Linked DNA regions of Homo sapiens: region 1 is linked to region 2. The links come from fine-mapping of genetic effects on gene expression. A gene starts in region 2. The other region holds a variant in brackets. All regions are shown on one strand. Distances are from middle to middle.

The links. PIP is the estimated chance that this variant, and not a neighbour inherited with it, causes the effect.
Region 1: its variant is the best candidate, but not a certain one, in a credible set for the expression of SNAP25 in lung (TOPMed, PIP 0.64).

Annotation. Positions count from the first base shown.
Region 1 is chr20:10,185,363-10,190,744 of GRCh38, forward strand. All of the region lies in intron 2 of SNAP25-AS1 (SNAP25 antisense RNA 1), which reads right to left. The region is part of intron 2 of LOC105372524 (a long non-coding RNA gene); the gene reads left to right. Among named protein-coding and RNA genes, the nearest start is that of SNAP25, 31 kb to the right of the region's middle. The variant A/G (reference allele first, on the strand shown) is at 2,971.
Region 2 is chr20:10,216,228-10,221,609 of GRCh38, forward strand. It overlaps SNAP25 (synaptosome associated protein 25), which reads left to right and starts at 2,603. Exons shown (of 8, transcript NM_130811.4): 1 at 2,603-2,750. SNAP25-AS1 (SNAP25 antisense RNA 1) reads right to left here and starts at 3,279. Exons shown (of 5, transcript NR_040710.1): 1 at 3,010-3,279.

The DNA.
Region 1 (5,382 bases), 31 kb before region 2:
GAAAAGGAAGAGAATGAAGGCTCTGTAGGTGAAAGAACAGTCATCTTAAAAACCAGTCAGTTGGCCCAGTGTAATGTAGCATTTGCCTGCCTCAGTTGCGTCCCAGGGCAGACGGAGAGTTTAATCCTTGCCCCTCTCATATGAAATAGGCCACCACTAGGATCCTCAATATATTTCTTTTTTTAATCTCTCTCTCTCTTCTGCAGGCTTATGGGTGGAATGCAAGCTATTGGAAGTATTTGAAGATGTGACCAAGGAAGCTATGAGAATTGGAAATGAGGCAGTTGTTTAGAAACGGGCTGATGTGCTTGTGGTAAGGTGGAAGGAGGAAGGCAGATGAGGAAAGGAATGTGCAACTGAAGCAATTAGCTGTTACTATGTAACGAACCATCCCAAAACGTAGTGACATAAAACAACAACCATTTGTTATTTCTCATGCGCTTACATTTCTACTAGGAAGTTCTGCAAATCTGGATTGGTCTTGGCTGATCTTGGCAGGGCTTGTTCTGGCATCCACTCTCAGCTGCTGAATTAGCTCTCAGTTCCTGGTTCAGGGTGGCCTTGGCTTGGATGACTTGGCTCTGCTCCATGTATCTTTCACATCCTTCCAGCAGGCCAGCTCAAGCCTGTTCTCTAGATTGTGGCAAGGATCCAAGGGAAAGAGAGAAAGCCAAAATGTTCATGCCCTTTTTTGAGCCACTTTTTTCAATGAGTTGGCTACTGTCTCCCTAGCTAAACACATCTCAGCCAAGCCCAGAACCAGTATGGAAGGTCACTAACCAAAGCTGTGGGTAAATGGAGGCATGGAAATCTGTGACCTTTAATGCAATCATCTACAATAACAAGCCAATGACCATGAAGCTGGACAGAGAAATAGATTCCTGGGAGGAAGAATAGCAAAATGTCTGGAGTAAGAGGAAGTAGGGTATTTCAGGGAACTCAGCAAACAGTGTGATGACAAAATGAAAGCACAGTCATGCAATCAGCACCTGGGTAAATATTTAGGTTGGAGTCTGTGTTGACCCAGTCTGCAGGTAACCCTCAGCCTGGCCCAGCATTTCACTGCCCTCCTACTACTTACCCAGAAACAACTCTCCTGTATTGATTAAGCAGGAAAGAGGAAACTCTCCTGGAAGACACAAGGGCAGATCCAAGCAGGAGCTAAGGTTTTCCAGAATGTGGTCTTAGGTCTGTGAATGGCTTTTGGACAGAGGCACAGCTGAACATTCCCATGGTTTCTGTGACTTTAGAATCACTACCACCTCTTGACTATGCACCTCTTGACTAATTTCTATTTCTCAAATTATAGAATAAAAAATGCTGATTCTAAGGATAAAAACACAACAAATAATCCAAAAGTATATAAGATGAAAAATAATAGTGTGAGTTCTATTCCATTCTCCAGAGAGTAACAACTGCTCTCAATTTGGGCACTTCCTTTCTGTCTTCTTCCTGCACATGTACTTTTTGCATATGTCCTTTGCACGTTCTTAACCATACTTGGGTAATGATGCCAACATCACAAGCATAACTTTCTGACAGCCCAGAAAGCCAACCTTGTCTTCTTCCTTGTTCAACCCTTGTGCCATTTTGCCCTAACCAGAAAAATACTCCACTTGGTAATGATTCTCTCTCTGTGTCTGTGAAAAATAACATTGGAAAGTCTAATGTGGAAATGTTGAACCAGGCTGGGCATGATGGTTCATTCCTGTAATCCCAGGACTTTGAAAGACCAAGGTGGAAGGATGGCTTGAGCCCAGGAGTTCAATACCAGCCTGGGTAACATAGTAAGACTCCCATCTCTACAAAAAATTAAAATTAACCAGGCATGGTGGCATATGCCTGTAGTCCTAGCTACTCAGGAGGCTGAGGTGGGAGGATGGCTTGAACCAGGAGGTCGAGGCAGCAATGAGCCATGATTGTGCCACTGCATTCCAGCCTGGGTGACAGAGTGACAGCCTGTCTCAAAAAAGAAAAGAAAAGATACAAAAGAAATATTGAATCAAAAAATATAGGTAAAAGTGAAACAAAAGGAAATTTAAAAATAAATATGTATCAATAGATAAAAAATGGTAAAATGAACAAGATGTGGAAAATGTTGTAGTCTCTACATCTGGCCTAATATTTAATCTAAGAATCTAATGCAAATTTCTTACATCATGAATAAATATGGATGATGGGCCTACAGATCAGATACATTTTAATAATGAGCAGACTAAGTGAGGCCTCATACCTCTCATCTCCATGTGTAACCTAATTAATCGGGCCATTTCAGTTGCAGAACACTCACTTCCATAACTGTCTTCTACTTCAGAAGTGTGTGTTTCAGTTAGAATTTGATTTGGGTGCAGATGCCTATGATAGACAATGCAAACAGTGACTTAAAGAAATAAAAGTTTATATTCCTCTCACATAAAAAAAATTTAAATTTAAATAGTGCAGGGCAGATTTAGCACTCCACGGTGCCAAGAATATGAGCTTCTTTTATTTTGTTGCTCTTGGCCTTCACTTTATGGCTCAAAATGGCTGCTGAAACTCCAGACATCAAACCTGCATTCCAGCCTGCACAGTAGAGGAAGGAAGTAAAGAAGGGTAAAGGCTCATTTTCTAAGGAAATTGCTCATCAGCCTCACACAACACTTCCTCATACACTGCATTAGCCCAATTTAGTCATATGACCACACCTATCTGCAAGGAAAGCTGAGAAATGTTGTTCTTGTTCTCAGGGGAGATGTATGTGCCCAGCTAAAAATAAGGTGTTCTGCCACCAAAGAAGAAGAGAAAGGGGATATTGAAGTTCAAGTGGTAATCTTAGACATATAAAGCCATCAAAATTATTTCCCCCCCAAACCCTTTTGAGAAACTGAGTGCGTAAAGATAGATTATGACTGGGCACGTCAAACTTGTTTTAAATATACAATTGGCCAGGCACAGTGGCTCACACCTGTAATCCCAGCACTTTGGGAGGCC[A/G]AGGCGGGTGGATCACCTGAGGTCAGGAGTTTGAGACCAGTCCGGCCAACATGGCGAAACCCTCTCTCTACTAAAAATACAAAAATTAGCCGGGCATGGTGGCATGCCTGTAATTCCCAGCTACTCAGGTGGGAGGCTGAGGCAGGAGAATCTTTTGAAACTGGGAGGCAAAGGTTACAGTGAGTTGAGATCACACCACTGCACTCCAGCCTGGGTAACAGGGTGAGACTCTGTCTCAAAAAAAATAAAATTAAAAAATGAAATAAAAATACAAATAAATATACTATTTTTTTCAAAGGATAGAAGGAGCATTGTCTACGTTAAATAATGCAGAAGATTTTAACTGATTGCAGCCCAATTTGTTTCCATATCCCCAGAGGCCATCCCAACCCAGAGGCTTTCCCATAGAACCGTGGGGAAAGATCTCAATTGTCTACACTCTGGCTCTGAGATAAGGCAGCGCTCTCTCAGCCCTTTAAAGGGGGAGAAGGATGTTAGTTCTATTCCTTAGGCAAGAGGGCCTCACCTGTGGCCATTCAACCCCAGGTTCTGCAAGAGTGAGAAGCAGAAAGCCTACTTTGCGTTGCCTCTACCTGAGGAGAAGAAGCCAGGTGTGCTCTCAGATGGTCGGGGTAGTGCTTGGGAAGATGTCGGGAGGACCGCGTAGAAAGCTGAGAGTGAGCTTCCCTTTGCTCACTGGCTTCTCAGCCAAAAACCGCTGGAGTGGAAGAGGGACATTATGGGCCTGCAGCAAACTCTCTCTCAACCTTCAGTTTCCCAATGTATAAAATGAGTATGATGAAACTTGCCTCATAGATTCATTACAAGGGTTGTTTAAAAAACATTTACCAAAGTGCCCGCTGTATACCTCCATTTAATGCATGCAAGTTCCTTTCTCTTCTTCCTTTTGGAATAACATAACCTGATTGTAAGAACATGTTTCCACAAGACAACATGATGAGAAATGTTTGGCAAGATCTAGAATTGCAGTATGGTAGCCACTGACCACATGTGGCCATTAAGCACTCCAAATGTGTCTATTGTAACTAGGAACTGAACTTTTAATTTTATTTCATCTTAATTCATTTAAACTTAAATTTAAAACCTGCTGCTTGATTAGAGTATTGAAAAATATTTAAACGTATTTGGAACAATTTGGGTATGTGAATTTCCTCTTTCAACTATAAATCTTACAAAATCTAAACACAGATCGAGTATTCCGAATTAAAATTTAACATTCAAATTAAAATGTGCTACATGTAACAAATACATACAAGATTTCAAAAAATATACTATAAAAAAGAGAATGTAAATAAAGTCATTGATAATTTTTATGTTAATAACTTTCATGTTGAAATATGTTGATATATTGGGTAAAGTAGAATACAATATAAAACTAATTTGTCCTGTTTCTTTTGACTTTTCTGATGTGATGATTAGAACATTTAAAGTTACATAAGTGGTTTGCATTATATTTCCAGTGGACAGTGCTAAGCAGAGGATAGCAAATAATCATTTGGATTGAGTCTTCTCACCAGACTGGCTAGTGATTTTGGCCTTGCACAGACATTTCATTAATTAACCGAGCACCTATCCTGAGCTAGGGATAAAGTAGCAGTTGAATCAGAAATAAGCACATAAGCAAACATTGTAAATAAGACAATTTCTGATAATTATCATAAGCAGAAGGAAGGAAATAAAGTAATAAAAGAGAGAATAATTACCCAGAAATGGAGCTGGTTTCTTTACATGGGAGGGCAGGCAGAGAAGGCCTCTCAGAGGAAGGACATTTGAGTTGAGATTTGAAGGGTAAAGATGAGCTAGAAGTGCAAAAGTTTAGATGAGGGGAACATTTTACAGAAATATTAAATGGTTGTGCTCAAGGTCAGATAGCAAGCTGCTAAGTCAGACTAGCATTATATACCCAGACTGATCTGTGCCTAAGTCTGTGATCATATCCATTTGTGAGAGATGCTAATTTCCACTCTGACAAAATTGTTGACACTAATGAACTGCCCTCCCCCTTCCCCATTATACTTCAGCAGGGTATTGGTGGGGCATTTCCCAGTTATATTCCTAAGAGCAGAAATCGAAAACAACAGTTCTATACAGGTAGGCATATGTCATATCTTGGAGAAAAGCATCCTTTCTACTCTTTTCAGCCTCTTGACTTCCTATGACAAGAACCAATTACAAATACTGCAGAGCAAGAATCAATGAAATAAAGAAATAATGGGAATGATTTCTGAGGACAGGAATTAAATAAGTGTGTCTTTCCAAAGCTATGACTTAATGGGGTCAGGATAACAAGCTCCAGGAATAGAAATGTCCTAATGGGAAAATAACGGCAATTCTGAAAGAGGAATAGTGGGGATTTTGGTGTAAGGGACTAACCATCATTACAGTCCCATG
Region 2 (5,382 bases):
GAAAAAAATCTCATTATCCTATTCAAAATACATTTAGGGTTATCTGGTCATCCCTAGCAGATTTTTATGTACCCAATGTTTATGTATCTCAAATTACACTCTGTTACCTTTCCCAGAGCAAGATGAAGAACCTCTAAGAACCTCTCAAACAGCATCATTTTCACAACAAGCACTAGCAATGGAAAACATTGTCACCACCACCAGCTAATCTTGTAGGGTCCATGGTATTTTCTGTAATGCCTTGAAACAGTCTGCCTCTCTCTTCTTGTCTGTCATTTTTATAGATGTCAGTGTGGGGCATCAGCAGTTGAAAACTCAGAATACCAAGCCAGTCCTTCCCTGTGACTGCTACATAGCTTTTGCCTGCAGGATAAGCCTCCATCACTGACGTAGTTGCTTTTTAACTTCTTTTTTTTTTTTAACTTGGAAAATCCCCCACCTCCTCCATTCCTTCACAAAACTTTCTGCCTGAATGATTTCTAGTCTGAGGGCCATACACACATTTTTTTTTCTCCCTCTGCAGGTTTTTTTTTCTCTTCAAACTTCCGCATGCTGCCTTTTTTTAAAGTGTCACACTTTGGAAAAAATTCTGACTACAAAGGATTTTGCAGTACATTGCATTCAAACCCCTTTCCCCCTATTCCAACTTGCTTTATAATGAAAGTAAGAGCCATACTCAAGAGACTTTTATTGGCAATTAAGTATCTAAGGACTTTGCAGATTTTCTTCTTTATTGTATGGCAATCTTAAATGTTTAATGAATATTTAAGTAAACAAATTTCAGCAACATGCCTTTTTTAGGAATTTGGCTTTAATTAACATCCAAACACTGTTAATTATTATGGCAAAAACATCAATACGTCAAAAAAAAGCCTTCAGGCCAGGGAATCTTTAAGAAACAATTATGTCTACTAATTTCGATTAAAGGTATCCTTTATTAAATTCTTAACAACCCGTCTCTTTCTAAACGCAGCGCCTTCACAACTCTTCTTCCCTTCCCCCTACCCCGCTTCCCTCCCTCCGCAATGGAGCGCAATCAAAGGCCGTATTATTGCCTAAGCTTGGCTCTCAGGCCAGCTAGGGATGTGTGTGTGTGTGTGTGTGTGTGTGTGTGTGTGTGTGTGGTGGGGCGGGGGTGGGGGGCGAGGGTGCAAGGGGAGAGGTTGTACGCCGCTTTTCCGAACCCAGCTCTAAATGGTTTCTCCTAAGCGAGACAAGGATTTTCCATAGCCTAAAAGAGGCCATCAAGTTTTAACATTGCGAGGCACGACTTCTAATCGCATCCTTCCCGGAAAAGTACAAACAGTTCCTCAGACGAGGTCCCCCACCTCCCACGCGCTCCCCAGCCCTCCCTCCCTGCGGAGAGCCCCGCGACAGCCTCCCCAACACCTGTGAATCATCCGGGAGGCTGCCACCGCCGAGCGATCCGCGCACCACCCCCTTCCCGGGCCCGGGCACGGCCAGGGAGGACAGTTAGGGTTGTTGCTTTATAATTATCACTTTTAATCTCTAATACGACCAGCACAAGTAGCCTTTGTCTCCCCGCCCTGATTTGAGCATCCGAGGGCCCCCCGAGGCAGCCTGCACGGGTACCCCGGGGTTTGCGCACTGAGTGAACCCCCAGATTCGGCCGTGTCCCAGCCGTCCTTGCTCTGAATCCCCCACCTCCTCCCGGCCGTTTGGACGGTTCCCTCGGGGCGTCTGTGCCTCCGTGGGGTACCCCTAAGACACCCAGCATGAAACCCCAGCACCGACTGCAAATTCCACCGAAAGCAGAGTCATCCGTTTTTGCCCTCGGCAAACAACTCAACTTCAAGCCTCGAGTCCTTGCAAACCCACGCTGGCTGGGCTAACTCCGCTTCCCTTCTCCTTCCCCCGACTCCTGCAACAGCTCAGAGAGCCTGGCTCTGACGTAGTTCAAAATAACGTGCGCCAGCCTCGCTGCCCGGCTGACCACAGCAACGAGAGCCACAAGCCCTCGACGCTGCTTCGATAACATGAAGCAATCACTCATAAAAATAGCAACCCACGTAGCCTGGCCATATATGGAGCTGGCGAGGGTGGACGGGGATGCCCCTACGGACCCTCTTCGGAGAAAACAAATCGCCGCTGAAATTTCCCCCACCCCTCCCATCACTACCTTTTACCCCTCCTCTGCCTTCCCCTCTCCTTAGATGACTCAACCACAGATTCCACTGAAAGGGGGTGGGGGTGGGGGTGGGGGGGAATATATACACATACACACAAATTATACATATATTATACATGTATTATAAAATATACACACACATACATATATACATACACACACATATACACATATGTACACACACACGCACACACACCAAAGAACATCAGGAATGCAGTTGCGGGATGAACGCGTTTGCCCAAGACCGAGTGTTAAAATGGAGTCATAAGAGTCGCCCCGTGCGGGTGTTTATAGAAGGTGAAAACACGCAGGTTTGCAGGCCAGCGCACTGGGAACCGAGTCAAGCGCGCCGCAGCCCGGGCCCCGCCCCCGCCCCCGCCGTGCCCCGCCCCCACTTCCTCCCGCCCCTCGCTGGGCGGCTATTAAAAGCTGCTGACGTCAAAACGGACGGCCATCTTTGATGAGGGCAGAGCTCACGTTGCATTGAAGACGAAACCTCGGGGAGGTCAGGCGCTGTCTTTCCTTCCCTCCCTGCTCGGCGGCTCCACCACAGTTGCAACCTGCAGAGGCCCGGAGAACACAACCCTCCCGAGAAGCCCAGGTAAGAACCCCCCTCCCCAGGTCGTGGCTCTGGCTCGGGATGGCTGCATACCCAGAAGGGACAGCAGCTGGGCAGTCCGAGTGGGCTTGGGTAAATACAAGTATTGGTGCACTTAGGGTGCGGTATTCCGTGTGTGCACGTCTGGTGGGGGCTTTATAAAGTGTTTTCGAGGTGAGCTGCTGGGGAAAAGGGAAACGGGAGCCCTGCAAATGGAGCGACGGGGAGGAAGAGCGAGGGTACGTACCGAATAATAACTTACTCTTTTGAAACAGTAGTGGGACCCCCTCTTTCTTCCATTTTGCGATGCAGTTTTCAGAGATATTTAGGCTGTTGAGTTTTCCTCCCCTGTCGTTCTAACCCTATTATTATGACTGTTGTCGTTAGGGTGCTATTATCCAGGGAAGAATTAAGGGGGAGACAGGGTGTGGGTGCTGGGGAGGCGAAAGGAGAAAGGGGGAGTTCCCGCCCCGGGCAAGCTGAGCTGCTGCAGCGACAGCAGCCTCCATGCCCCGCGGACTTGATTTATGCCGCCTGCTCCACGTCAACTGCAGGCTGGCGGGAGGCGGGCGGGTCGTGCCGGGTGGGAGGGCTCTGCGGAGGGCTGGCGCGGGTGGGCTGGCTTCGGGGACTGCGGCGGCCCGCGCTCAGCACCCTGGATAGCAACACCGAGGGCTCGCGCGGGCGCCCTCGACCTTTCAGCACCGGGGACAGCGGTCCGGCCGCAGCGCCTCATCTGCCTGCGGCAGAAATGCCTGGCCGGGGCTGGATGTGCCAGGGCTGGAGACCAAATTGTCTCCCTGAGACCCCGGTCTTACGGAGACCCTTAATAGAGGAGTCATAGTAGCTTAAAAGAAAACAAGAAAGAAATAAATCTTCCTCACAGAGACTCCTTTGCAGACAATTTCCTGTTCCCCTCCTCACCTCCTGCATAGCTTCAACAAAATAGTCTACTTGTGGAAATCTTCTGTGTTGCCCTCTGACCCTTATTTTACGTAGAAAATAAATACATTTTTTAAAAAATATGGATTTATCCTCCAGCAGGGTATCAAGGTTTTTGTTTGGTTTTGTTTTTTAACACAGAGTAGATCTGTCTACAGATCTTGGGTGAGCATAAGTACTGTATATATGAAGAAGCCAATGCTATCTGTTTATAGGGATGATACATCTCTCTCTATGTTTCCATTTGATAAAAATGTGAGATTAGCTGAACTAAGCAGAATCAACTTTAAGAATGAATCACTCTTCCTTTTCCTTCTTCCCCCATCCTTGCAATCAGGCATGAATACAAGCATTCATCCACAAAAACACATATCTGAGAAATTTTACTGGTCCTGTACTGAATAGATTTAACCTCTTTGGCCACGGTTTCAGAGTTACTGGAAGTATTTGCTATCAGCACTGGTTATCGCAGGCTGATAGCTTTAGATTTTGACAATATTAAGACTGGCCTTCCTCAGGAGAATCCAAGTGTGTCCTTCAGGGTAATGCAGGTAAAGAACCATGGTGTTAAACTAGAACTTAACTCTGACCTAAAGGTCTACTGCAATTTCTCTTATGGCACTGCGGGATTTTGCTGAGGTGGTAATAACTACTTTAACCATTTTCTACTCTGAGGCTTGGAGCATCTGAGAGAGCAAAAGTCATCAGGGGTATTTCTCTCTGTTTGATGTAGATAAAACTGGCATAAAAATGACCAGAGTCAAAATTATGCCATTTGAGTCATTAGCAAAAAAGAGTAACAGCGTCATATGTAATAATCTATACAATGCATTAAAGAAACGCTATCATGATCCCCTTAAAAGACCCCAAATGAGAACTTGGATTGTGTTTAGATAGTCATACCTCCTATCATCTGTATGCTACAGACACTAAAATTCCCTGTCCATATACAGAAGGTAATTTCATTCGCTGCTATTTAATTATTTCCTAGTGTTTTTTCTTTTTATAGATGACCATGTGTTTCCATGTATGTATATGTTGATCTGTTATTTTGCATGGATGTAAAATTATTTGGGTGGACATTTATATATGAGTATGTAAACGTATAAAAGAAGTTTATAACTTTGCAATCTGCAGACAAAAATAAACAACTGTGTTTTAGTAGTGGAGGAGAGAAAATATGGGCAGGAATCTTTAAAAATGCTTTAACTTCATGCTGCATGTCCAGACAGCTGTCTGCGTAGTTGCGTCAAATGAAAAGCCTAATGCTGCCGGAATTACGTGCTTGGACATTAGTAATTACTGCTGGGTTTGTTTGCTAGTGGAAGACTGGGGAGGAGCGGGGGAAGTAGAGGACCGCAGTGAAGATGGCAAAGGGCACAGAGCTGAGAGGAAGAAGCAATGTGCACAATTAGAAAGCTAATTTTAGAATAGCTTACTGAGAAATTTAAAAAATATATCATTGAACCATGAATTTAACATTTATATCATTGACAAGCTTCCAGGGAAAAAAAATCGAGAAATTTCCCATTTTAAGTTAGAATTTTTAAAATCCAGGGCAATGCGGTGAGAAGAGGCAGGAGCAGATGGACATAGGATGAGCCAGGAGTCATTCACACAGACCCTCTGATGCCTGTTTGTTCATCGGCATTTACTGCATTACCACCTCAGTGTTCAAATTACAGAACAATTT